3 linked regions of the Homo sapiens genome follow. The protein of the gene in region 3 interacts with the protein of the main gene of each other region in a pairwise test. Each region holds a gene or a part of one and is shown on either strand. Other genes may lie near its edges. The genes, in order: PLLP, CLRN2 and CLEC2D.

Evidence for each region.
Region 1: the proteins of CLEC2D (region 3) and PLLP interact in binary tests that used the Homo sapiens proteins (3 or more experiments, as listed by UniProt).
Region 2: the proteins of CLEC2D (region 3) and CLRN2 interact in binary tests that used the Homo sapiens proteins (3 or more experiments, as listed by UniProt).

What each region holds. Positions count from the first base shown.
Region 1 is NC_000016.10:57,255,541-57,261,668, forward strand, and holds the end of PLLP (plasmolipin), read right to left. Parts: intron 3,045-6,128; coding exon 2,922-3,044; intron 1,490-2,921; coding exon 1,373-1,489; 3' UTR 557-1,372; downstream 1-556. UniProt on the Homo sapiens protein: Main component of the myelin sheath that plays an important role in myelin membrane biogenesis and myelination. Plays an essential function in apical endocytosis. Regulates epithelial development through the regulation of apical endocytosis.
Region 2 is NC_000004.12:17,515,926-17,527,383, reverse strand, and holds the end of CLRN2 (clarin-2), read right to left. Parts: intron 4,521-11,458; coding exon 4,341-4,520; intron 568-4,340; coding exon 302-567; 3' UTR 280-301; downstream 1-279. UniProt on the Homo sapiens protein: Plays a key role to hearing function. Required for normal organization and maintenance of the stereocilia bundle and for mechano-electrical transduction.
Region 3 is NC_000012.12:9,670,970-9,682,427, forward strand, and holds part of CLEC2D (C-type lectin domain family 2 member D), read left to right. Parts: intron 1-9,953; coding exon 9,954-10,064; intron 10,065-11,458. UniProt on the Homo sapiens protein: Receptor for KLRB1 that protects target cells against natural killer cell-mediated lysis. Inhibits osteoclast formation. Inhibits bone resorption. Modulates the release of interferon-gamma. Binds high molecular weight sulfated glycosaminoglycans.

The sequences.
Region 1 (6,128 bases), on a different chromosome or scaffold from region 3:
GAGCAAGACTCGGTCTCCAAAAAATAAAAATAAAAAATAACAAAAGGGTACAGAGGGTACCTAGAAATGCTTTTACCTTATTGTTCAGAGAACGTTGTTCTGTGGTGTTGGAAAAATAAGCTCAGGAGTACTCAGCTGCTTTCCTCTGCTGTCTCTACCAGCTCTGAGCAGGCAGCATGGCCAGCCACCTTGATTATATGACCTCCAAGCTTCACAGACTTTCAAGGTAGATGATATTGTTGAAATCTTTGATTCAGTAAGCTCACCTAACCTGCCCAAAGCAAGGGTGACTAAGTTATTGTCAAACTGAGTCACTTGTGAGAATAAAAGGCCGTGCTATTCTATTTATGCCAGCACAAACAGCATAAACCAGGACTGTTCCAGACCCAGCAAGCAGGAAGTATAGGCAGCCTTCCTCCGGTCAAAGAGTTCGCAGGTGGTGCTGAACGACTCCAGAACGTGAACTGCCCTACAGCAGGCATCTTCTACAGTCAAGCTGAGGTCTCCTGGAGGTTACAAGCACCTGTAAAAGTGATTTGCCAACATCTTGTCCAAATAATTTCTCTCATCTTTATTTTTATTAAAAAAAATAAAACAGTCACCACCAACCACATGACAACTCGCCAGGCAAGGCCTTGCTTCCCTCCCTCCTTTGCGTCCCATGTGCCTAGTCAGCAAGGTCGGGGAGGCACCGATGTTAGCTTCGCCCAAAGGGAGTATTACAGAGAGAGGCTTGGGAAAGGGAAGGAAACCTGGACAGGCTTTTCAGCACTGAGAAATCACTTAAAACTGATTTGCTTTCAGTAACTGGTATGTCTGAAATGCAGGGAGGGAAGACCATGCTGTCAGCAATCAACCCACTTTTTACAGGTTGGCTCCAGGGAGAGGTTGGTTGAAACGGTGTTTAAAGGAAGGAGAGTGGTTTCACCAGCTTGCTCAGCTCTCCTGGAACAAAGACTAAGGTGCTACGTGTTGCTTGTTAGGCTTATACTACGGCGGGTCTGGGGCTGCAGGTCTGGAGTCCTTGTTAGTGCATTTAGTGCTGGTGAGAAGGGTGGGCCCCAGTCTTGGACGCTGAAGTCCTCTAAAGACAAGGCAGAGACACAGCCTCAGATCCCCCGTCATCTTCCACTGAATAAGGGGGATGGAGAAGAGGTCTCAGCAGTTGGCCTCCTGCAAGCCGAGATGCCTGCCAGCCTGGGCCTGCTTCCTTAGCGCTGTGAGAGCTTATGTCTGACGGGCAGAGAGGAGCAAATGCAGTCCCTGTTGGGCTGACTCCACGCAGGGCTCCCCAGCTTCAGGCTTGCAGGGTGACCCTGCTCTGTGACCCAGCGGCGGCTTCAGCCCCAGAGGGGGCCGTGGCACAGGTGGTTTAGGCATAGCCGCCAGCCATCTGACTGGTGGCCGCATTGCTGCCTACTCCTCGCCAGGCCTGGTAGCTGAAGAAGGCACTCACTCCATAGGCGATCATCACCAAACACGCAAAGAACTGAAAGAGAGGTGAGAAGGGCTTAAGGACCGAGAGGGTGACAGTGACACAAGCTCCAACCAGATCTCAGGCCAGGCAGGAGGGGTTGTGGCAGCCGCACCATCTCACACTTAGCCAGATGCATTTCACAGCTGTTTATCATGGGGCTGATGAGCACCAGGGTCCTGGGATACCAACATTACCTTCTAACCATGGGAAACAGCTAAGAACCACAGGCAGGGCCTGTCAGATTGTGATAAGGGCAATGAAGGAGAAGATAAGAGTGACAGAGGGGACACCTAGCAAGGATTTAGTTCTAAAAAGACAACATTCAAAGGACACCCTAGGAATCTCCTAGAACCAGTTCAAGCCTCTATACTAACACCTGCAGCCACATTCAGAAGCTCCCCGTCTCTGTCCCCATCACTGAATTTGCTGATTTCAAAACTGCCCTCATCAGGAAGAGTAAGGAACCAAATGCGTGCCCATTGAGGCCCTGCCCTCCCCTGGGCTTGGCCGTGGCTCCAGGCCTGGCGTCCAACTTCTCTGAGCAGGAGCCTCCTGTCTGTCAAAAGGAACTGGTAGTCCCTTCCTCTCCCTCACTGTGGGTGTCGCAGGATCCTGGGAGGAGATGGTGTGCAGGGCCTGGTGGTGTGAAGGGTGACAGGCGTGGAGGGGACTACTGCCACTTCACTGGCCACCTGACGTGGGCCCAGAGTTTGGGTTTCATGGGAGAGCCTATGAATCTCCCAGAATGGTTTAAACCAAAAGGTTTTTGCACGTGCACTTGTCAGTGGGAGAGCATGTTTTTCACATTCTCCAAGGGGGCACGTGACCCTAAGGCAGTGTGGCACAGCTGATTTACAACAAGGTTCAATAGTCAGCCCAGGCCGCGTGTGGCAGCTCACACCTGTAATCTCAGCACTTTAACAGGCCAAGGCGAGTGGATCACCTGAGGTCAGGAGTTCAAAAGACCAGCCTGGCCAACATGGTGAAACTCCGTCTCTACTAAAAATACAAAAATTAGCCAGGCGTGAGACTCCATCTCCAAAAAAAATACAAAATACAAAAAAATTAGCGGGTGTGGCAGCACACACCTCTAGTCCCAGCTACTTGGGAGGCTGAGTCAGGAGAATCACTTAAACCCAAGAGGCAGAGGTTGCAGTGAGCTGAGATCACGTCACCGCACTCCAGCCTGGGCAACAGAGCAAGATTCCATCTCAAAAAAAAGAAAAAATAGTTAACCCAAAACTTCCATTGCCCACCACACACCACTCTCCACTGTTAATTATGGAAGCCTGGAGGCGGCCCGGCTCCCCTCTAAGACCCACTGAGTGTTCAGGTGACAACCCCTCAGGAGGTGGCAGGTGCCTGGCCTCAGACCAAGCGAGCAGCCTGAGTCCTGGGGCTGAGACCCTGCAGACCACCAAGGGAGCCTGGGAAGCAGACTCACCGAGGCAGCCGCGCGCTGGTTATAAGGCCGGGTGCCCCTCAGGGATGTCAGGTCAACTGCCGCAGAGCAGGCGATGAAGGCGGTGATGTAGAGAACGGTGGCGCTGATGTTAAAGATCATTAACTGCAGGACATGGGGGTAGGGAGTGGGGAGAGAAAAGGCTTAAGACACAAAGAGAGGCCAGACACGGTGGTTCACACCTGTAATCCCAGCACTTTGCGGGGCTGAAGTGGAAGGATCGCTTGAGCCCAGGAGTTAGAGACCAGCCTGGGGAACATAGGTAGGCCCCATCTCTACAAAAATAAAAAAGTTAGCCAGGCATGGTGGCGCATGCCTGTGATCTCAGCTACTTGGGAGGCTGAGATGGGAAGATCACCTGGAGCCGGGAGGTTGAGGCTGCAGTGAGTCATGATCACACCACTGCACTCCAGCCTGGGTGACACAGTGAGATCCTGTCTCAAAAAAAAAAAAAAAAAAAAAAAAAAAGACAAGACCAACGGTTGGGGCTTCTTGGTTCCCACTGGCACACTCCTTGAATAGCCATTGGATGGTGATGCAAACACCTGGGTCTTTCCCACCAACAGGGCCTCAAGAGGCCACAGTTTCCAGGGAGTCAGCCCATGAGGCCCTGGTCCCCAGGAGGCCTGCTGAGCAGGGAGCATGAACACACCTGAGGCTGGAGGAGGGGAATGACAGGAGGGCCTCAGTGATGGGGTAGTGGCAGTGCCAGACCCATTCCTCACAGAAAGAGCCCAATCCATGACCCATCTCTTTGTACCAGCTAAAGAAACACAGGCTACTCCTCCAAGTGTGGTCCAGGGCCAAGCCCAGGCCATCCCTGGTACCACTGCAAGGTTTGGCTCTGTGGCCAGTCCTGGGCTGGGCCTCACATCCCTCTCTGCCTTCAGGGGGAAGAATTTTTGTCTCCCTCTTGGCCACATCCTAAGCTCAAGGCTCTAAGCAAATGCCAGGGTCAGGACCAAGAGGACCAGATATTTCAAGCTGGATATGGAACCAGACTGGCAGGAAGGGGCCCTCTGCTGACAACCAGGGACCAGTCCCTCATCCCAAACGCTTGGCCCCAGGAGCCCATTCACCGTCTTCAAACGCCTGGTCCTCAAACATTCATTCAGTTCGTCCAATATACTTTTAAAAAATTACCAACATTATAAAATTAGATTTCATGAAAACCTGAAGACTTCATGTAAAAATTTTATATTAAAAAAATCTTGGCCGGGTGCAGTGTGGCTCATGCCTGTAATCCCAGCACTTTGGGATGCCGAGGCAGGCAGATCACTTGAGGTCAGAAGTTAGAGACCAGCCTGGCCAACATGGTGAAACCTCGTCTCCAATAAAAATACAAAAATTAGCCAAGAGTGATGGTGCCCACCGGTAATCCCAGCTACACAGGAGGCTGAGGCGGAAGAATCACTTGAACCTGGGAGGCAGGGGTTGCAATGAGCTAAGATCGTGCCACTGCACTCCAGCCTGGGCAACAGAGCGGGACTTTGTCTAAAAAAAAAAAAAAAAAAACTTAGGATATCAAAAGATTTCGCTCCAAAGGGGCTGCATTCCCACTAGGAACAGATGAAGTGAGTATAGAGGCAGCTTGCGATGGGCAGATGGATGCTGGCTTCTCCAGGGTCCCTCCTGACCCAATTTACTCACATATCTTGCCTGGATCCTGTAGGGGTCTGTAGCCCCCATGCCAGAAAATCCCAAATTGGCCATGCTAATCCAGCCTTCTCTAGATGCAGTTAAGCCCTCTCTGCCCCATTCGTTGAGGGTCCAGAAGCACAAGAAGCAATGTCCTGCCACTGTGGCAGAAGGGAGCCTCCTTCCATTAACAGCCACGGCTGGAGCCCCAAATCTGCACCTAAGAGACACACAGGCTTTTATCTCTGGAGATTTCTCTCTTAGAGGTCCCTGGGACGTGAGGGAGGGGGTGGACCCTGAGCCCGGAAGTCAAGGCACCGCCTCCTCGCCCCAAAATCTTCCCTGCAAGCCCAGCGACCCCTGCAAACGCTGCCTGTTTCTGCCAGGGATGTCGAGATCTAACAAACCCATTCTGTCTTGAGGATGACTCACGTTTCCTCGGTTTAAAAAGTCATTGAATTCCAAACAATGCCGCCTAGTCCCAGCCTTGCTTGTCTTACAATCATGTGCCTTTCTCGCCTCTCTTCTCACTGAAAGCCTCAGACCCCAGCTGCAGGGGTTTTCCGGGTCAGAGGAAAAAAAAAACCAGCAGCTTTCTGTGTGTCTGGCCGGGGTACTTCCCATGTCCGCTCTCAGCCCTGTGTCCTGGGGAGACTGTCCTGGGGCAAACCTGGGGAGCCCAGCCTCTCCCAGGCCTCAGGGCCTCACCTGCAGGCAGCCAGGTGCCCGAGCTTGTCCTGCACACTTGAGGCCCTGGCCTGGGCAACTTCTGACAGCTTGCCACAGCCTCCAGCCACAGGGCTGCCTACCTGGGCCAAGCTACAATCTCACAAACTCACACAACACAGGCACAAATTCTGACCACCCCCAGAGGGAAATTTTTTTTTTGAGGTGGAGTCTTGCTCTGTCACCCAGGCTGGAGTATAATGGTGTGATCTCGGCTCACTGCAATCTCCGCCTCCTGGGTTCAAGCAATTCTCCTGTCTCAGCCTCCCAAGTAGCTGGGACTAGAGGCGCGCGCCACCACACCTGGCTAATTGTTGTATTTTGCTAATTGTTGTATTTTTTGTAGAGACAGGGTTTCACCATATTGGTCAGGCTGGTCTCAAACTCCTGACCTCAGGTGATCCACTCACCTCAGCCTCCCAAAGTGCTGGGATTACAGGCGTGAGCCACCACACCCGGCCGGGAAAAATATTTTTAAGATTCCAAATGGCCTCTTACAAATCCACTCAACAGCCCCTCACTTCTACTCCCCTCCTGGGACAAAGTCAAGCCTGTGTCCTTCCTGGCTCATGGTTCCCCAAAAAACCGTGCACCTAGGCATGGTGGCTCACTCCTGTACTCCCAGAATTTTGGGAGGCCAAAGTGAGAGAACTGCTTGAGCCCAGGAGTTCAAGACCAGCCTGGGAAATAAAGTGAGACTCCTCTTCTACAAAAAATAAAAATAAAAATTAGCAGGGCATGGTGGCACGTGCCTGTAGTCCTAGCTACTGGGGAGGCTGAGATGGGAGGATCACATGAGCCCAGGGGTTCAAGGCTGCAGTGAGC
Region 2 (11,458 bases), on a different chromosome or scaffold from region 3:
TTTACAGATGAAGAAACAGAGACGTAGACATTAAGTGAATTGTCTAATGTCACACACAGCCGGCAAGTGGCAGAGTCTCCAGCTGCAACTTGAACTCCAAGGTCATGAGAGAGGAATGCAAGGACGCTGGGGATTCCGGGCAAGTTTTTCTTTTCTGGCCCAGGCAACAGCCTTGGTCCTTCACATCCTTTTTCTTACTGCTGAGAACATAGCCATGATGGAGTGGGAAGGCTGCAAAAACATGAGGACTCCATTCGCACACAGAACTGACTTAGGACAGGTTGTGAACAGGGGAAGGCTATTAATACAAGATATCCTCAGCTGTGACCGTGGCCTCTTCGATTTTGGTCTTAATCTCAGGGAGGGGAATTTGACTGATCGCCACCACGACCAAGTTTGCAGCATGGGCCGAAGCGCTGGCCACGCAGATCCAAAACGACTCTTCATACTGTTCTTCCACCACCACAAACTGGAAGAGCTTCTCCTGAAAGTTGGCGATTCGTTCCGTCAGGTCGTGAAATTTCACCGCAGCCACGAAGCTGGCGATGGCTAACGCCACGACGCCGCCTGAAACTCAAAAAGGTCACCCTCATTCACGGCTCCTTTTTGCAACTCTGTAAGAGGTGGCATTTCTGTGCCACGTGTGACAAACTTGCTTTGGGTTAACAAAATTATGAGGAAGACATAAGTTTTAATTTGCTTTTAAAAGTAGGAGATAACCCACACAGTATGAAGGAGAAAGGCAGGATTGTGCGGGGAAAGAGAGGATCTGCTTTATCAGCTTTGAATTTCCACCCCTCCAATTATTTTTGTTTGTTTGTTTTGAGATGGAGTCTTGCTCTATTGCCCAGGCTGGAGTGCAGTGGCACCATCTCAGCTCACTGCAACCTCTGCCTCTCGGGTTCAAGCCATTCTCCTGCCTCAGCCTCCTGAGTAGCTGGGACTACAGGTGCCTGTCACCACAGCCGGCTAATTTTTGTATTTTTAGTAGAGATGGGGTTTCATCATGTTGCCCAGGCTGGTCTCGAACTCCTCACCTCAAGTGATCCATTCACCTTGGCCTCCCAAAGTGCTGGAAGTACAGGTGTGAGCCACCGCACCCGGCCCACTCTTCCAATTTTTCCCCTTACCCAGTACCATGCTTCCTAAGGATCCACGTTTGGAGAAGTTCATTGTCTAAAATATCCTAGGATTTCTATGAAGACCGTGAAGGCTATGTGGCAAGATGTAAGAAAAACTGTTGCTCTCCTGTTTAATTATCCTCCTTCCATGCTTAAGGATAAGGATGACCATTCATAGAAAAAGGAAAGGAGGGAGGGGAAAACTGGAAGAATTCCAAACTACTTCCCTATGTTTTGCTTGAAACTTTGACTTTCTGGGAGGAATCTGTCTCTCTCTCTCTCTCCCCCTCTCTTCCTCTGGTTTCAATTTTAATTAATATTTTTAATAACACATTTATGATGCTTCTTAAAAGATTAGTATATCTTCATCGAAGAAAAATTTGGACACCAGAGAAAATCATAAGCAAATTTACTTTTATCCTAAAAGCCAGCTTGAACCCTTTGAACATTTTAGTGTTTTTCTTTATGTTTCTTTCTCTTTAAGAAAATTAGTATTATGGTGTTCTTACTTTGATTTTAAATTTGATTTTTTTCCCCTCACTTGGACATTTTTACGTGTTGTTACATATTCTGTTACAGAATGACTTTATTGTCTGTTTTTATTTTTGTTTTTGAGACAGGGTCTTGCTCTGTCACCCAGGCTGGAGTGCAGTGGCATGATCACGGCTCACTGCAGCCTCGACCTCCTGGGTTCAAGCGATCCTCTTGCCTCAGCCTCCTGAGTAGCTGGGATCATGGGTGCATGCCACCATGCTTGGCTAATTTTTGATTTTTGTTGGTTTGTTTGTTTGTGGAGATGAGGTCTCACTATGTTGCCCAGGCTGGTCTTGAACTCCTGAGCTCAAGCAATCCTGCTGCCTCAGCATCCCCAAGTGCTGGGATTACAGGCGTGAGCCACCGTGCCAGGCTTACAGCATGACTATAAATGAGTGCATAGTATTTTATGCACTACACACTATAATTTATGTAAGTATTTTTAGTAGAGACTAAACAGTCTCTACTAAATTATAGAAATAAGGTCACACACTATAATTTATGTAAGTATGACCTTATTTCTGGATGTCTAGATTACTTCTAATTTTTTGATATTATAAAGTGCTACAGCAAATACCATTTTATGTACATCCTTGTTCTCTTGTCCAGTATTTCCTTAGCATAAATTCAAACATGGAATTGTTTAGTCAAAAGATATTCAAAGGCTATTCACCTTTTTCTGCCTTCTGACACTACAGTGTTGTTGTTTTTTTAAGCTCAGTGGCAAGAAATAAAGTTTTGTCAAAAGACATAAAGCTTTGCCTGTTTTTATTTTTTATTTTTTGAGACAAGGTTTCGCTCTGTTGGCTGAGGCTGGAGTGCAGTGGCATGATCACGGTTCACTGCAGCCTGGACCTCCCAGGCTCAAGCAATCCTCCCACCTCAGCCTCCCTAAGTGTTGGGATTATAGCTCTCAAGCAGCTGAGACTACAGGCACCGGACACCATGGACAGCTAATTTTTTTTTTTTTTTAGAAATGGGGTCTTGCTGTGTTGCCCAGGCTTTTTTGCCTGTTGCTAATACTCTCATCAGTAGAGTCTGAGAGTGCTATCTCTCTAAGGAAAGGAATGGACAGAGATAAATATTTATTTAATAAGCAGCGTTGAGCACTTTTTACATGACAGCCTCTGTGAGGATTCATGCAGATGAGGAAGACACCTGTAGTCTTGATGAGGGTAAGCCATGTATGTAAACAATTCTACAGGGTGGCTACCATCTGCAAACAAAGGCAAATACATAATAATTGATTGATTGATATACATTATAATACATAATAAAATAACATTACCTGTTTTTATATTATTCTTGTATAAGGTAATCATAGCGAGGGATTATTGTTCTAATGGTACCTTGAATATTTGACCTGAGTTTTCTGTGACAGCCCTCATTTCACAAGATTCTGTTATTTTCATTACAGATGATTTGTTAAGTGCATAATTAAATGTGAATTAATTTCTGTGCATCAATATACTCCCAAATCAACATGCGCGCGCACACACACACACACACACACACACACACACATCTTGTAGTTTTTGGCTTGGAAAACAGGTCATGATGGTCATAAATGAGAGCATGGATCTGTGGAAAAATAAAGAGCTTAGAATCAGTTACACCTAGGTTGGAATACCACCTCTGCCACTCATTGTGGTGCGACTGTTTAACTTCTCTGAGCCTCAGGCTCTTCATCTGTAATTGTGGGTCTAATAATACCTCCCATAGGGATGTGGTGAGATTTAAATGAAGCAATGCATGCAAAATCTCCAGGTCCCTGCCCAGCCCTTAGTGGTTGCTCAGTAAGTTGCATCTAGTTTAAGGGCATGGTGCAGTGAAGGTGTTGGGGAGGTGAGAGGAGGGAGAGTTGAGACAGCCAGTGAGCCACGTCTGCATTAATATGCCCAAGTGTGTGTGTGGGGGGAACACCAAAGACCTTGGCAACTAGATGGCACTCACTTCCCCTTCTCAACCCAGAGCCTGAATGGAGGAGCCTTTCACGAATGGCCTCTTGCTCACACTACCCTTCTCTTCTGTCATTTGTGGAGTTCCTCCCAGCCTTAGCTGCAGCACCAGCTCCATCTCTTTCCCATCTCAGGGCCCCCACCTCTCCCTACTTCCAGCTCTCTGTCTTCTGGCTTCTTCTTTCACCTCGATCTCTCTTCACTGCTCTAAGCCCTCAGCCATTCACGTACTCTAATAAGATGCTTCTTTGTTGTGACAGACTCTGCAACTTAAAGAGGAAATTCTTGAGCACTTTGGGAGGCTAAGACAGGTGGATCCCTTGAGCTTAGGAGTTTGAGACTAGCCTGGGCAACATGGTGAAACCTGTCTCTATAAAAAATACAAAAAATTAGCTGGGCATGGTGGTGCACGCCTGTACTCCCAGCTACTTGGGGGCCTGAGGTGGGAAGATCACTTGAGCCCAGGAGGTCAAGGCTGCAGTGAACTGAGATCGCACCACTGCACTTCAGTCTGGGTGACAAAGTGAGACCCTGTCTCAAAGAAAAAAAAAAAAAAAGAAAAAGAAAAAGAGGACATTCATTCCATGCCCATCAAGAAGGTCTTAGACCCAGGAAGGTCAAGGCTCCAGTGGGGCATTTTAGTTCCTTCACACCTTCTGCCCAACTACTTGGAGCCCAGCCCTATGATGGTGTGGACATAATTTTCTCTCCCTAAGGGACTTCTTACCTGCCAGGACATTCCATAGGCAGATGCCCCCAGGACCGCTGACTGCCCGGTACGGGACCTGGATCATGTTAAGAATGGCAAAGCCCATGCTGACCAGAGCCAGGGCCAAGGCCAGGAAGAGGAGCAGCAGAATCATCACATGAAGGCCTGCGTTGAGCTCCTTCACCAGGTGTGGGAAGACTGGGGAGACAAGACACAGCCACTATTTCAATGTCAGAGTTAGACTCACTTTCATGAAGTCCAAGCTTGCTTACCACGAAGGCTTCGACAGACAGGGGTGAGGGCAAGACAGCAAGCGTGGGGATTTCAAACAGCGGGAGACTTTCTGAGATGAACTCATGGCCCCCAGATTCATGCTTGTCAGTTGACCAACAAGCCTCTGTTCCTTAGAGTGGACACAAAATCAAAATATGCCCTGGCTGTCAATTTAAGTTGCATTGAGCTTGAAGCTCTGGGATCTGATGTGAACTGATGCACACAGGCCCCAGTGACTTAGCAAGGTAGACCCTGGCTTATCCCCATGTATGAAGGACACATAATTCTCACGTTGCACAACGTTTTATTAAAATATTAATTTGCCTTATGAGTATGGCAAAATAAGTTAGTGAAATCTTAATTCATATTTGTTTTCTCTATGTTTGCCAGCAGTACCAGCTGTGAAGATGAAATGACATAACATAATAGAGTAGCTCAAATAGTGCCTGGGAAAGTCAGTTCTCAAAAATGGCAGCTGTGGTTATTGCTGTTATATTTTGACAGTCTTGGGAAAGTCATGTGACTTCTCAAGCCTCAATTTCTTCATCAGTACAATGGGGATAGTAATCCCTGCATATGAATTGAGGATAATCAACATTTACTAAGTGCAGTCATGGGCCAAACATTTTACATCGTCATCTTGTTCAATGTGCATGACAAAGACATGAGGTAGATTTTATAAACTCCTTATACCCACAGGCTTGGAGACATTAATTGCTTGTGTTTGGGGAAGGCAACTCTTAATTCTATATAAGATTATAGTTCAATATACTATGAGAACAAATGTGACCCTGAAAGAGCCCGTCCTTCAAGATGGGTCCTGAGTGGTTAACTGGCTCTAAATTTAAAGTAGGGCCAAGTGGCCATTTACTGACTAGGGGGTCACACGCATCTTCTGAGTTCCTTGAAAACCCACACCTTTTTATCTTTGAGATCTGCCTCAGCCAATCAGGGCTCAGCTGTAATGACCAATCGGGGCTCAGCTGTACCAGCTAATCAGGGTTCAGCTGTATCCACCAATCAGAACTAAGTGAATTTGAATCCTTTATTTACCCAAACAGACCTGACTGGAAACCTGGGTGGGAACTTTTGCTATAAAATCTGAGCCTTCCCTTTCTTCTCTGGAATACACCTTCCTTTTACACCGGAGGCTGTGTTTCCCTGGTTTGCAAACCGTTAACTGGAATAAATTCTTTACTCCAAATTCCTTTTCTGAGAACTGTTGTTCACAACTGTATGGTATCAACAGTGTCAAGTCATGATCTTTAGTAGTTTTACATGAAGAATTGAACATTATGAAAGCTACAGAACTTCTGAGCATACTCATTCCTCTGCAATTGCTCCAAGGTTCCTGCTGAATACCCACCCTGATGGAACTAGTTCCTTTGCTGGTTCACCTGCCTCTCTTAGTCACTGAAGGTTGGCGTCTCCCAGTCCTGAGAACTAGAGTTTTTGTTTTTCCCGTTAGGTGTCCCGTTAGGTGACACATTTTCAGGCACTCCACGTTTACATTGTGCGTTCTGATGTTTCTTTCCAGTTCTGAATTTCCATTTATTTTTATCTCCCTATGGTTATCTAATCAGCATTGGAAACTTTACCCTGGAAGATGAGCTCCTTTCCAGTGAGTTTGTCTTTGTAAAGCGTCTTTCTTCCCTGTGCTTCTATCCCATCTTAATGTCCCTTAGATTTTTTTTTTCTCTTTTCAAACTCTCAGCCCCTTTTTGTTTCAGACACAGTAGCTTGTGCTGATATTTATTTATTTTTATTTTTAAAGACAGAATCTTGTTCTGTCACCCAGGCTGGAGTGCAGTGGCACCATCTCGGCTTGGTGCAACCTCCTTCTCTCTGATTCAAGCAATTCTCATGCCTCAGCCTTTCCAATAGCTGGGATTACAGGCACCCGCCTCCATGCCTGGCTAATTTTTGCATTTTTAGCAGGGACGGGGGTTTCACCATGTTGACCAGGCTGGTCTCAAACTCCTGGCCTCAAGTGATCTGCCCGTGCTGGGATTACAGGCATGAGCCACCAGACCCTGCCGCTTGTGCCTGATTTTTAAATTGTTTCATTATCCCCTTTCTTAACCAGGCAATCCTTAGGACACACGACTAACATAGTAATGCTTACCAAAACTCTTACAATAGAAAACAGTCACCTATGTGAATGGTAAAGATCAAAATGTTTGCTAAAACACCGTGTTGACAATGGTGTAAGGAAGAGGCACTCTCAAGTCTCATAGAAATATTAATTCATGTAACCTTGTTAGAGGGCAATTTGGCAACATCTACTAAAGCAAATTCACTTCTAGGAATTTATTTTCCAGAAGCACTCCCACATGTGCTCAAAGCGTGGATCAAATATTGGATATTCATTACAATAGCAAAAGATTGGAGAAAAAACAGTATGTGAATAGACTGATTTAATAAAGTATCCATAATGTCCATAATGTATATAATTCATCTTTTAAAAAGAAAGAATTATATCCACATAATGATTGAAACCATATCCAGATTTGATTTTTAAAAATTGAGAAATAATCATATTAGGATGACGGGGGAGAGGGAATTTGGGGAATGTGGAGTGATGTGGAGAGGGTGGTAAAGAGTGCCCAGTCCTCGGCCTTCATAGTAGGAAGTGCATTAACTATAATTAAAAAATACTTATTGGCAAAGGGCAAATCTCACTCAACCCCCACATTCTTGGGCCATAACACAGGGCTCAGGACCTCATGTTTAATAGAGATTTTATTATTTTTTAATATATGTCATTATTTAGAAATTCGAGGCTGGGGCAGTGGCTCATGCCTGTAATCCCAGCACTTCTGGGAGCCATTATGGGGGGATTGCTTGAGGCTAGGAGTTGGAGATAAGTCTGGGCAACATAGCAAGGCTCTGTCTCTAAATTAAATTATTTTTTAAAAAAGAAGAAAAAAGTAGAAATTCAAATCATTTCTCAGGAGTGTTAATGCACCAGTTCTTTCTACTTTCTCACTGAGAGGTGACTCTGCCTTAGCCTGACACCCAGTGCTGCCCTAGGAAAGCTGTTGCTCACTTGCCTTTCACATTTGAAATCCAGGTTCCAAGAGTTTTAGATGTCTCCCACTAGGAATTAAATTTAAGTTTCTAGCTTGAAATCCATGACCCTACACACGACTCATGGTGATAAATGACAACACGATTCATGGTGATAAATGACAACAGCCACCTATATGGGGTGCAGACTATGTGCCGGTGGCTTTATACATATTCTTTGTTCTGTTGCTCATGGACACCCTCTCTCATGCTTACAAATGAGGAAACTGAGGCTCGGAGAAGTGAAATAGCTTAGCTACGCTCCCACAGCAAGAAAAGTGTCAGCTTAACTACTCTATTACAGGGCTAGAGCAGAAAAATCAGAAAGCACAGATAAGTAGAGGTTTAAAATTCTAAACATAGAGTCTTTTGAATCCTGGAGGTCTCATTTTGAATTTGAATAGATATAGTTGTTTCCTACACATTAGAGGCAACTCACTTGAAAGCAGAATTGATTAATCATTCTATCAGCATCATTCTATCAGCATATGATGCATCTATCAGCATCTATCAGCATATGATGCATCTATCAGCATCTATCAGCATCTAAGATAATTTGTTTGCTCCGAATCCCAGAGAGGTCTGGCAGTCCTTTTCGCCCCAGCAGGGCAAATAAGAAAAGCAGGACATCTGAAGTCAAACCCAGGTCCTGGCCACTAGTGGAATACCTGTGAGGCAGGAAGTAGAGAGGAACCAGAGAACTAAAAGCTGCAAAGCAATCTATTACATTAGGTGCTTTTAAAGAAATTATTTTATGTATCGATTTCTCTGGTCTCTAATTTCCTCATCAGTAAAATGGGCGTAATAAAATCTCTTCTCTAGCATAGTAAAAATGGAAGGAAATGAACTACAAGGCAATGGCTTCAGATACTGTGTTCTGTGCCTAGTATATATTTATCTGCCTCTCCTTTATCAGATGGTAAATTTTTCTTTCTTTTTCCTTTCTCTTTTTTTTTTTTAGATGGATTTTCACTCTTTTCACCCAGGCTGGAGTGCAATGGCACAATCTTGGCTCACTGCAACCTCCACCTCCCAAGTTCAAGTGATTCTCCTGCCTCAGCCTCCTGAGTAGCTGGGATTACAGGCACCTGCCACCACGCCCGGCTAATTTTTGTATTTTTAGTAGAGACGTGGTTTCACCATGTTGGCCAGGCTGGTCTCAAACTCCTGATCTCAGGTGATCCACCTGCCTTGGCCTCCCAAAGTGCTGGGATTACAGGCGTGAGCCACTGTACCCGGCCAGATGTTAAGCTTTTCTAGGGCAAGTACTTGTCTGGTTTGTTCATCCCTGTTTTCTTAAGAGCCTGGTCTGTAAATACTCCATAGTACAATTGAATGTGTGGACAATGCTAAAGTAATGTTTGTCTTTTTCTTTCTCTAGCCACCCAAACAGCCATGTTGACTTGTTTTTATTTCATAGGGCCTGGGTATAAAAAAAGGACCTTAATCTTTGCGATGGATAGTTCTTTGGTTTTCTCCATGATTGGCGTGGGAATTTATTCCCCTGGGTGATTTTTTGGGGAGGCCTCTGTGATGAGAAAAGTGGCTGTTTGTGAACGAGACCCAATAAACCTCCCCATCCCAGAGTTTGCAAAGCATTTTCACTTACGTCCCCATCTACACTGATCTGCGACTGTGGGGATTATTTTTTTTTTTTTCTACAGATGGATAGTGAATGGCAGAAAGAGACCCCAGGAGAAACAGACTCCTGGTTGTGGGAGGCTCTGATATACCCCGTAGCTGCCTCGAGGTTACACTGTGCTAGAATTAAAAGCTGTAAATCTAAAGGAGACTAGACTGGCACTATCAGTGTCCCTGAGCTGTACTGGGGTAAAGCCAGCCAAGCACAGGAGGAACCTGGCCCCAGGCTCCTCGTGAATGCTTTGAAAGAGAATCACATCCAAGGTACTGCGAATGGATGTTTACAGACCCTCCTCTGAGACAACCCCAGGGCAGCAGGAAACAAAACCTTCTCAAATACGCTCCTACTCAGGGACAAGAATAAAATGTCCTTTATGCTTCTCACAGGGTTCTGATGCTTTCCAGACCAGACCACGTTAGATGAACCCAGGGGAATGTTTCCCATTGGTGTCCTTCTAAGAAGGAAGAAGGAGGAAGGCAAGAAGTACTTACTGAGTTCCTCCAAGGCTCAAACAAAATATGCATTTGTTTGCAGCTTCCTACTCGAAGCAGTTTACATTTCTGTGAGCTGGGAATGGCAGGGGTCTGGTCATTAGGTTAATGCTGGCATGTGACTGCTGTTTAATCTTCTCACCCCATTCAAGTTTCAACGATTTACCTGTTGGGGTTCAGAAACCAACACCCCTAAAATATGAAGCTTTGTGAAGAAGTCTCAAGGTCTCTCTGGCCTCCCCTCTCCCTCGTGTCTCTCCATTCTTTGTCTGTCTCATAAGCACAGGATGAGGTTGTTCTCTGACATTCCCTTACCTGCCTACATCCAGACCTACCAAAGAAAAAGACCTCTGGTCCCTTCCCTGAGTGTTCATTAATTGTACCCATATCACAGGAAGAAAGACTAAAGTCTGTTAACACAGCTGGACAGACTTTTGTCACAAACCAATGTCTGCTCTGTGGGCTCAACAGACTTTGTCCCAGCTCACTGTATGTTCTTTAAGCCCATTGAATTTCCCTAAAAATAATTTACTAGTCCCCTAAAATCATCCACACTTCCCCATCTCTCTTTCCCCTAAGATGAAGAGGATACAACCACCTGTACCCCATTGAGATAGCGGACAATCACTCTGTGATTTTTCCCCTATGCATGCTAATAAATGTGTAAGCCATTTTCCCTATTAATCTGCCTTTTGTCAGTAGATTGTTTAGAGAACCTTCAGAGTGCAAAGGGGAAGTTTTCTTGACCCCTAAAGTCCCGAAGACATCCTTTATAGCAAAGCATCTAGTTCAGAATCGAGTAGTCCATGTAGTTGTCATGGTTAGCTTTTAGCATTTCTTTTTTTTATTTGTTTATGTGTGTGTGTTTTCAAGTTTTATGTTATAATTTTGATGGAGCTATTTGTTCAATATCCAGGGTCTAATCTAATTGCTAGGTAAATATAAATATGCCCAGACATATTGATCTTGAATATACATAACAAATGTAAATTTTTGTGTGTTTAAATGATGACAATTTGTATTATATTTGTCAACGGTTCCAGCTTTTTGTCCTTATAAATTTAATACGACATTTACCTTGGCCAGATTTCTATAAACTACTACAATACTGAAATATAGAAATCAAGGAATGAATACAATTCTGTATCACCCTACATTGGCATGGTATTGATTAATTACGGTTTTGTGCAGACACTTTTCACCAGTGATCTCATCGATTCAAAAGGCTTGCAGAATATTGCCTGTTTTGTTTTTTCCTTTCCAGAAGCCCGTTCCTAAGTCCAGCTTGGATTCCTGTTTGTGCAGACTGCTCTGCTTACATCCTGGGCAGCTCTGATGCTACACTGAATGCCAGCCAAAGTCGGTGCCCGCTCACGTTCACAGAGAACAGGCAAGTGCCTTGCTTGAGGTCTCCCCACCAGTAAACTTTCCAGTAGGGGTTTCAGCCAGGGTAGTCTGATTCCAGAACCCAAGCACAGTGCCCCTTTGCATTTTCTCAGACTATGAAGCTTTTACAAAAGTAGATGTGGAAAGGGTCATCATGCTTCCCAAAGGTTCAGTTCTGCAGGCAGCCTCCACCCACTTGTTGTGGTCATGTGGCATGGGTCTGGAGTCCGGCTCTACTGTTTCCTGGCTGGGTGACCTCAGGTAAGTTATGTAAC
Region 3 (11,458 bases):
GGGTCTCTTTCTAAAGTTTCTTCCTCTTCACCATCTGACCCGTACTTTCAGGTTCCCAGGGGCTTCTCCTTTCCATCCTCCAGCTAGAAATGCGGGCCTCCTTTTATTCTGATGAACCATATACTTCTGCAATTATAGCTGCATCTTTAAGCTCATGTGGCAGACGGACAGTGAGAAAGAAGAAAAAAAAAGCAAGAGGTTTGGCCCCACTCTCATGGAGCTACAGCTCAACTGAATGGAAAGGATTGACTTTAGATTTCTTTTCTTTTTTTGAGGTGGAGTCTCACTCTGTCCCCCAGGCTGGAGTGCAGTGGCGCGATCTCGGCTCACTGCAAGCCCCGCCTCCTGGGTTCACGCCATTCTGCCTCAGCCTCCTGAGTAGCTGGGACTACAGGCGCCCGCCACCACGCCCGGCTACTTTTTTGTATTTTTAGTAGAGACGGGGTTTCACCGTGTTAGCCAGGATGGTCTCGATCTCCTGACTTTGTGATCCGCCCGCCTCGGCCTCCCAAACTGCTGGGATTACAGGCGTGAGCCACCGCGCCCGGCCGAGGATTAACCTTTCTCAAGGTTTTGGCTATTGCATGTTGCTGTAGTTTCCCCTACCATCATCAGATTGCCTGAGGTTTGAGGCACATGAGAATGTAGACAAGAGGGGGAGAAAAAATAAACGTGGTATTTTCACACTCTATTTGAGATAGGAGTTTGCTTTTCTGTTCCTCAGACCATACCTCTAGTGCTTCTCCTGGAGCCCTCTCTTTATGCTGACAGAGGCTCAATTCCATGTTTCTGGCTGTATTAAGTTCGGGGCAGTGATACTAGAGGAGGGAAATTTAAATTCACCACTGGTTTGATGGCTCTTTAAATTTGGATATTCTTGTAAGATCTGCTGCTAGTATATCCTTTTTCCTTTTGCTCTTTTTTGTTTTGTTTAAAGACCATATTTTTAGAGCCATTTTGGGATCACAGCAAAATTGTGAGAAAGGTAGTTTTTTTTTTCATTTTCTCCTTGTTGCCACACATATATAGACTCTGTCTTAGTCTGTTTTGTGCTGCTATTACAGAATACCCAAGACTGGGTAATTTATAATGAACAAAATCTATTGGCTCATAGTTCTGGAGGCTGGAAAGTTCAAGACTGAGAAACACATCTTGCTCCATCATCCCATGGCAAAATTTGGAAGGGCAAGAGAGCACATGCATAAGAAAGAGAGAGAGCAAGAGGCACCAAACTTGCTTTTATAACAAATCCACTTTCGTGATAGTAAACCCACTCCCATTATAAGGACATTATGACCTGATTACCTCTTAAAGGACCTGCCTCTCAACACTATTGCATTGGGGATTAAGTATCTAACACATGAACTTTGGAGACACATTCAAACCATAGCAGTCTCTAACATCAACATTCTTCACCAGCAGTACATTTATTACAATTAATAACCTACATTGGCATATTGTAGCACTCAAAATTCATAATCTGATGGACTTCCCTTTGTCAGTGACCTGACCTTTCTCCCTGGCTGCCCTTAATATTTTTTCTTCCATTTCGACCTTGGAGTATGTGTCTTGGGGTTGATCTACTCATGAAGTATCTTATTGGGGTTCTCTGGATTTCCTGAATTTGAATATTGGCCTGTCTTGCTAGGTTGGGGAAGTTCTCCTGGATTATATCCTGAAGTGTGTTTTCCAACTTGGTTCCATCCTCCCTGTCTCTTTCAGGTACTCCAGTCAGTGGTAGGTTCGGTCTTTTTACATAGTCCCATAGTTCTTGGAAGTTTTGTTCATTTCTTTTCATTCTTTTTTCTCTAATCTTGTCTGTCTGCCTTATTTCAGCAAGAGAGTCTTCAAGCTCTGATATTTTCTCTTCTGCTTGGTCAATTCAGCTATTGATACTTGTGTTTGCAACATGATGTTCTCGTGCTGTGTTTTTCAGCTCCATCAGGTCATTTATGTTCCTCTCTGAACTGGTTATTCTGGTTAACAGCTCCTGTAATCTTTTATCATGCTTCTTAGCTTCTTTGCATTGGGTTAGAACATAATGCTTTAGCTCAGCGAAATTCGTTATTACCAACTTTCTGAAGCCTACTTCTGTCAGTTTATCCATCTCAGCTTCAGCCTTGTTCTGTGCCCTCACAGGAGAACTGTTGCGATCATTTGGAGGAGAAGAGGCACTCTGGCTTTTGGAATTTTCACCGTTTTTTCATTGTTTTTTCCTCATCTTCGTGGATTTATCCACCTTTGATCTTTGAGACTGATGACCTTTGAATGGGGTTTTTGTGGAGTCTTTTTTGTAGATGTTGTTGTTGTTACTTTCTGTTTGTTTGTTTATCTTCTAACAGTCAGCCTTTCTGAGGCAAGTCTGCTGCAGTTTGCTGGGGATCCACTCCAGACCCTGTTCACGTGGGTATCACCAGTGGAGGCTGCAGAACAGCAGATTGCTGCCTGCTTCTTCCTTCAGAAGTTTTGCCCCAGAGGGGCACTGGCCTGATGCCAGCCGGAACTCTTCTGTATGAGGTGTCTGGTGACCCTTGTTGGGAAGTCTCACCCAGTCAGGAGGCATGGGATCAAGGACCCGCTTATGTAGAGAATCTGACATTCCCTTAGCAGAGCTGGTGTGCTGTGCTGGGGGAATCCCACTCATCGGGTTCATCTGGTCTCTTCAGAGCCAGCAGGCAGAAAAGATAAGTCTGCTGAACCTGAAACTGCCTCTCCCCTCAGGTTCTCTGACTCAGCGAGATGAGAGTTCTGTCTGTAAGCCCCTGACCAGAGCTGCTGGAATTCTTGCAGGGATGACCTGCCTGGTGAGGAGGGATGGCTCAGGGTCCCACCTAAAGAGGCAGTCTGGCCACAACCTGCCACAGCCAGTTTGCTGCACTGTGGGAAATCTGGCCCAGTCCAAACCTCTCAGGCTCCTTTGCACTGTCAGGGGCAAACCGCCAACTAATGGTGGTCACCCCTCCCCCCAGGAACTTAGTCATTCCAGGCACACTCCAGACTACTCTGCTGGCAGCAGGGATCTCAAGCCAGTGGGTCTTAGCTTGCAGGGATCCATGGGAGTAGAACCTACTGATTGAGACTGCTGGGCTCTCCTCCTTGGCTTCAGCCCCCTTTCCATGGGACTGGATGGTTCTCGTGCCTCACTGGAGTTCCAGGCACCACTGGAGTATGTAAAAACTCCTGCAGCTCAGTGCCTGCCTAAACAGCCACCAATGGGAGTGGCTGTCATTGGTTTGCCCAGGTTTGTGCTTGAGACCCAGGGCCCTGGTGGTGTAGGCTCATGAGGGAATCTTCTGATCTGCAGATTGCAAAAATCTGTGGGAGAAGCATAGTACACCTGGTGGGTAGGACAGACCCTCGCCACTTCCCTTACCTCAGGGAGGCAAGTCTCCCCACCCTGTGCAGCTCCTGGGTGAAATGACACCCCACCTGCTTTCTTCCTGCTTCCTGTGGGTTGCACCAGCTGCCCAATGAGATGAACTTGGTACCTCAGATGGAGATGCAGAATTCACCTGCCTTCCGCATTCATCTCACTGGGAGCTTCAGACCAGAGCTGTTTCTGTTTGGCCATTTTGGCCCCTCCCTTCAAGTATGTTTTCTTTTGTAAGAAACTGCCAAAGTGGCTGTAGCATTTCGCTTTCTTACCAGTAATGCATGAGACTTCTGGTTGCTCCACATCCTTGCTAGTATTTGATATTGTTAATGTTTTAATGTAACACTTAAGTAATATGTAATGATATCTCATTATTTTAACTTGCAATTCTCAAAAGACATATGATATTAATAATTTGTCTTTTCATTATTTTGATTATGTCTTTTGCAGGTTGAAAGTTTTTAGTTTTAATGAAGTCCAGTTTATCAGTTCTTTCTTTCATGGATTGTGCCTTTGGTATTATATTTAAAAAGTCATCACCATACCCAAAGTTATCTAGGCTTTCTCTTATATTATCTTCTACGAGTTTTACAGTTTTGTGTTTTACCTTTAGGACTATGATACATTTTGAGTCATTTTGGGGAAAAATGTAAAATCTGGGCCTAGATTCATTTATTTGTATGTGGGTGTCTAGTTATTCAGCATCGTTAGTTGAAAAGACTGTCTTTTCTTAATTGTATTGCTTTGCTTGTTTATGAAAGATCAGTTGACTATATTTATCTGGGTCTATTTCTTTTTAGTCTGCTACTCTGCTTTCTATCCTTTTTCATTAATTTATTTGTCTATTCCTTTTTTTTTTTTTTTTTTAAGAGACGGAGTCTCACTCTCTTGCCCAGGCCGGAGTGCAGTGGCGCAATCTCGGCTCACTGCAAGCTCCGCCTCCTGGGTTCACCCACCATTCTCCTGCCTCAGCCTCCTGAGTAGCTGGGACTACAGACACCTGCCACCACGCCCGGCTAATTTTTGTATTTTTAGTAGAGACGGGGTTTCACCGTGTTAGCCAGGATGGTATAGATCTCCTGACCTCATGATCCACCTGCCTTGGCCTCCCAAAGTGCTAGGATTACAGGCGTGAGCCACCGCGCCCAGCCTTATTTGTCTGTTCTTTAACAAATACCACACTGTCTTGATTACTGTAGTTTTAGAGTAAATCATGAAGTCAGGTAGTATCAGTTGTTTAACTTTGCTCATCTCCTTCAATAATGTGTTTGCTTTTCTGGGTCTTTTGCCTATCTATATAAACTTTAGAATCAGTTTGTTGATATTTATACAATAACTTGCTGAGATTATTATTATCATTGCATTTAATCTGTAGATTAAGCTGGGAAGAATTGATATCTTGGCAATGTTGAGTCTTTCTCTCCATGAACATAAAATACTTCTCCATTTATTTAGTTCTTCATTGATTTCATTCATCAGTTTGTAGTTTTCCACATATAGATTTTGTATATATTTTGTTAGATTTATACCTAAGTATTTTATTTTTTGAATGATAATGTATATGGCACTGTGTTCTCAATTAAAAGTCCATTTGTTTATTTCTGGCATATAGAAAAGTGATTGACTTTTGTGTATTAGCCATGCATTCTGCAACCTTACATATCAGTAACCTTGCATGTCAGTTCCCAAAATTGTCAATTATTTTGGATTTTCTACATAGATGATTATGTCATCTGCAGAGAAATACAGTTTTATTTCTTACTTTCTCATCTGTATACCTTTTATTTCCTTTATTTCCTTTTCTTGTCTTACTGCATTATCTGGTACTTCCAGAACAATGTTGTAAAGTATTGGCGAGAGGGACATCTTTGCCTTGTCCTTGATCTTAGTGGGAAAACTTCAAGTTTCTCACCATACTTGAGGATGTTAGCTGTAGGTTATTGTAGATATTCTTTATTAAGGTGAAGAAGTTCTTCCCTATTTCTAGTTTACTGGGAGTTTTTGTCACAAATCTGTGTTGAATTTTGTTTACTGAAAGTTATCACAAATGGGCGTTGAATTTTGTTAATTTTTTTGTATATATTGATATAATCAAGTGATTTTTTTTAGCTTGTTAATGTTATGGATAACATTAATTGATTTTTGAATGTTGAACCTGCCTTAAATAGCTGAAATAAATTTAACTTCATCACAGTATATAATTCTTTTTATACATCATTGGATTGGATTTGCTGATGTTTTGTTAAGGTTTTGCATCTATGTTCATGAGGTATATTGGTCCATAGTTTTCTTTTCTTGTGATGTCTTAATCTGATTTTCCTATTAGGATAAAGCTGGCCTCATAGAATGAGTTAAGAAGTATTCTCTCGGCTCTAACTTCTAAAACAAATTATAGACAATTGGTATAATTTTTTCCTTAAATATTTGGTTGAATTCACCAGTGAGTCCATCTTGACATGGTGCTTTCTGTTTTGGAAGGTCAACTTCTGTAATAAATGTAAACATATTTAGGTCATCTATTTCTCCATGTATGAGTTTAGACAAATTATGTCTCTCAAGTGATTGATCCTCTGTGTGGACATAGAACTGTCCATTTTAGCATCCATGGGATCTGTAGTAACAACTCCTTATTTATTTCTGATATAGATAATTTGTGTCCTTCCTCTTTTCTTCTTAATTAGCCTGGCTAGAGCCTTATCCATTTTTTTTTTTTTAATCTTTCAAACCTAGTTTTTGGTTTTGATAACTTTTTTCTATCAGTGTCCCATTTTTTATTTCTGCTCTAATTATTTCTTTTCTTCTGTTTAATTTGTACCTGATTTGCTCTTCTATTTCTAGTTTCCTAAGGTGTAAACTTAGATCATTAATTTTAGATCTTTATTTTTTTCTAATAGATGCATTCAATACTATCAATTTCTCTTTAAACAATGCTTTTACTGCATCCCACAAATTTTGTTAAGCTGTATTTTCATTTTCATTTAGTTGAAGTATTTTAAAACTTCTATTGTGATTTCTTCCTTGACCCATATGTTGTTTAGAAACGTATTGTTTAATCTCCACATGTTTGTGGAGATTAGTGGGATTTTAAAATTTTCTTTCTGTTATTGACTCTAGTTTATTTACATTGTGGTCTGAGAGCAGACGCTGTATGATTTCTATTTTGTTAAATTTGTTAGGATATGTTTTGGCCCAGAAGGTGGTCTATTATGGTGATTATTCCATGTAATCTTGAGAGTGTGTATTCTGCTGTTGTTTGACAAAGTAGTCTATAGATGTCAATTATATTCGGTTAATTGATGATGTTGCTGAGTTCACCTAAGTTCTACTGATTTTCTGCCTGCTGGATCTGGGCATTTCTTTCTTTCTTTTTTTTTTTTTTTTTTTTTATTTTGTTGTTTTTGAGACAGAGTCTCGCTCTGTCACCCAGACTGGAGTGCAGTAATGCAATCTCATCTCATTTCAACCACTGCTTCCCGAGTTCAAGCAATCCTCCCACCTCAGTCTCCTGAGTAGCTGGGAATACCGGCAAATACCACCACACTTGGCTCATTTTTGTCTTTTTGTAGAGACAGATTTTACCACATTGCTCAGGTTGGTCTTGAACTCCTGAGATCAAATAATCCAGCCTTTTGGGCCTCCCAAAGTGCTGAGATTACAGTCATGAGCCAATATACCCTGCTGGATCTGTGCATTTCCAATAGAGTGTTGTTGAAATCTCCAACTATGATAATGAATTCATCGATTTCTCCTTGCAGTTCTGTTAATTTTTGCCTCACGTAGTTAAATACTCTCTTGTTAGGTGCGTGCACATTTAGGTTTGTTATGCGGAAACATAACATAGTTTCTTGGAAAGCTAATTCTTATACCATTATGCAATGCTTTTCTTCATTCCTGATAAATTTCCTTGCTTTGAGGTTTGTTCTGTTTGAAATTTGTATAGCTTCTCCTGCTTTCTTTTGTTTGTGCCAGTATGATATAATACATATATATATTCATGATCCATTTACTTTTAATTTGTGTGTCTTTATATTTAAAGTGCATTTCCTGCAGACATCATATAGTTTAATCTCTGATTTTTAATTGGTGCATTTAGATCATTGATATTAAAATGATTATTAATATAGGTGGATTAAATATCTACCATATTTCTTTCTGTTTTCTATTTGTTGCCTTTGTTCTTTGTTTCTATTTTTGTTTTTCATTCTCTTCTTTTCAGAGACTGAGTCTCATTCTGTTCATTAGGCTAGAGTGTGGTGGTATAATCATAGCTCCCTGTACCCTTGAAATCCTAGGCTCAAGTGATTCTCCTACCTGAGCCCTGAGTACCTGGTATTACGGGCATGTGCCACAAAGCCTGGCTAATTTTTATTTAATTTTTGTAGCGACAGAGTCTTTGCTACGTTGCCCAGGCTGGTCTTGAACTTCTGGCCTCAAATGATCCTCCTGCCTCAGTGTCTCAAAGGGTTGGGATTATAAGTGTAAGCTACAACACCCAGCCATGTCTTCCATTTTTTTCCTGCATTTTTAGTTTTTAACTTAGCATTTATAAAGTTCCATATTTTCTCATTCTTAGTATATCAATTATACTTTAAAAATGTGATTTTAGTGGTTACCCTAGTGTTTGCAATATACACTCACAACTAACATAAGTTTGCTTTCAAATAATACTATACCATTTCACAGGTACTGTGAGTACCTTATAATAAAAAAATCTAATTCTCTGCTTTTATCCCATGTGTCATTTCTGTTATTTATTTTATTTACATGTAAGAATACATAAGCATATAAATATATATAAAAGATGTATACATAAGCACACATAATTAAATATATTGCTACTATTGTTATTTTGAACAAACTGCCATTTGTTAGATCAATTAAGAATAAGAAAAATAGTTTTATTTTACCTTCACTTATTTTTTATATTGTTCCTTTTTCATATAATTTAGGTTTCTAACCTGTATAATTCTCTTTCCTTTTAAAATAATTGCATTTAACTTTTTTGTTTTTTGATATAAGACAAGTCTACTGGCAACAAGTTATCTCAATGTTTCTCCAAAATAGTGGTTGTTTCTCATTCACTTTGAAGAATTTTTTTGGCTAAAGAATTCTAAGTTGATAAGGTTTTTTCTCTTAATACTTTAAATATTTGTTTCCACTGTCTTCTTGCTTGCATGGTTTTTGAGAAGAATGTAAATGTCATTTTTATCTTTGTTTCTCTACATGTAGAATTTATTTTCCTCTGGATTCTCTTATGATTTCTTAAATCTTTGATAAAGGGGGTACAGGGGCATATGTGAACTCTATATTTTTAATTCAGTATTTCTGTCAACTTAAACTGATAAAAACTAAAATCTATTGATTAAGACAAATATCTTGGGAAACATCAATGTAAAGCTTGCTGATCTCTCTAGTGTTGGGGGGAATGTTGGAGAAAAATATGCCTATTTAGCTAAGGACAAACCTAGATAAATTAACTAGAGGTGTGAATTGTATGCAAGAGATTGTGTCAGAACAGGGTTCCAATAATGAACTTCATAAGAGGTTTTAGATAACCTAAGACATTTTGAAATATAACACAACTACAGGAAATTATACAATACAAATATGTAGCTTGATTAATTATTATAAGATAAACACCTTTGTTGACTCCTGATATGGCCTAGCTGTGTCTTTACCCAAATCTCATCTTGAATTGTAGTTCTCATAATCCCCACTTGTCATGGGAGGGACCCAGTGGGAGATAACTGAATCATGGAGTTGGTTACCCTCGTGCTGTTCTTGTGATAGCGAGTGAGTTTTCATGATATCTGATGGTTTTATAAGGGGCTTTTACCCCTTTGTTAGGCACTTCTGTCTCCTGCTGCCATGTGAAGAAGAACACGTTTGCTTCCTCTTCCACCATTATTGTAAGTTTCCTGAGGCCTCCCCAGCCATGTAGAATTGTGAGTCAGTTAAACTTCTTTCCTTTTTAAATTATCCAGTCTTGGGCAGTTCTTCATAGCAGTGAGGATGGACTAATACAACTGCTAACATTGTCTAAGAAAGATCCTTGTTATGTGGCTCAGAGGCCCTCCATGTATTCTTAACTATTCACTCTCCTATCCTTCCAAGAATAACACTAATTTGACCTCTACAATAATCACTTTATCACTCCAGTTTTGCCTTTTTTCCTCCAAAACAATGCCTTTTAAGTCTATTTTAATCGATAGATTTCCTCTTAATATCATTTAAAAATATTTCTTTACATTTTTAGACAGGAATCAGAATAATTTGCTATGTTGAATTTCCAGTTACTTGGATTTTGTTGATTTCATTCCTGTGGTTTAGTTGACATGAATCTCTCCAATTGAAAGGGTAACTTGAATATGGTAGCTGGAAAGTTAAAATCAATTCTTTTAACTTTGGAAAATGATTAAATTCTGGAGATAGAATAGTAAGTTCATAAGATGACAGGTCATTTGCATCCTCTAGTGAAAAGCGAAGGAATTAAATAAAAATAACATTTTGATGCTTAATGTTTCTGGCAGTATTATGTCTGTATTTAATTGTTAAAATGTTTTTCAATAATTTTTTCCAGGTTGTCTGCATTCAAAAGAGCATTCTATTAAAGCTACCTTAATTTGGCGCTTATTTTTCTTAATCATGTTTCTGACAATCATAGTGTGTGGAATGGTTGCTGCTTTAAGCGGTAAGTGAACTGTAATCTTTATTCATCTAGAGAGAATTATACTTGTAAAAAGAAGAGGAAGAATCTGAATAATTTTGTTATTCTTTACAGCTTTTAATATATTGTCTCACTAACTGAGTTACACTCCAATAACTTTTTAAGTGGCACCAAAAATTTTAATTATGTAAATAGGGTTCACATTATTCCAAGTTTAGTGAGATGATCAGAGTCTTCAGAAGGTAGAAGACAGACCACTATTCCTTAAGAATATTGATGCAAAAATTAAAAAAAATAGTAAACTGAAAAATAGTCTCTTGTCCGATCTAGGAACATGGTTAATTTTACCTCCACAACAACCTTGTTTCATGAAAAATAGCAAAACAGATGGTTTAAAGTACACAAAACTACTAAGTGGCTGTATAACATCACAGGCAGCCTGTTCTTTCTTCCTAGCTATTTGAGCATGTTCTGGCCCTTGTTTTTTTTAGCATATGTAGCCCATCTTCCTAGAAAACAAACTCCGTTTAGTGATTGTACCCTAAAAGCAATTAGCTATAAAAATTATCTTGTACTTCAAAACATGCTTGCAGTGCATCTAATATAGACCAAGCGAAGACATAGAAAACTACAAAAGCACTTCCCCCAAACCTCATGCCAATCTGGATATCAACCTAAAATCTACCCCCTGTTACTACATTCTGAAGTAATTTCAGAGAGACCCTTCAAATACTGCTTACGTAACTTAAGAGTCAGCAATACTTGGAGCACTCCATATAACACTCTAAATAATTTCTATTCATTTGCAAATCTTTTGCTTATTATCTTTTGGCATTTTGAAACCACAGATAATATACTTTATACATTTATGAAGCAAAAATAATTTTTTTATTTCAGAGATTTAAGTCAACTAATTGTAACTATTTAAGAAAGAAAAAATTGGAAAGAGACAATTTCTGTACTCTGTAAGTACCTCAGTATTAATCAAGGGAATGTATTCTGAAATATAATTTAAATTTATAGCTCTTTTTTTTACAGTAAGCATATGAAATTGACACTTATGACTGTTTTCCTTTATTATCCATTATGTGTTTCTCTTCCTTTCAGCTAGCACTTTGGAAATGATTTCTTGTGTGGAGCCAATAGCTGGAGCCATCTTCTAATCTGGTCATTTTCTTTCTTTCTTTTTTTAAATGTGTTATTATGTATTACTTTATATCATTTTTATGTTTTATTTAACATTTAGATTGTTAGTTAACTATTCAAGTGTGGTATTTCCCCATTTAAATCGAGTTATTTAGATTGGCTTTAGTTATAAAAATTCCTAATAGAGCTTTGTAGTTATAGCTCTGGTCCCTAACTTTTTTTTTAAATTATACTTTAAGTTCTGGGATAAATGTGCAGAACCCGCAGGTTCG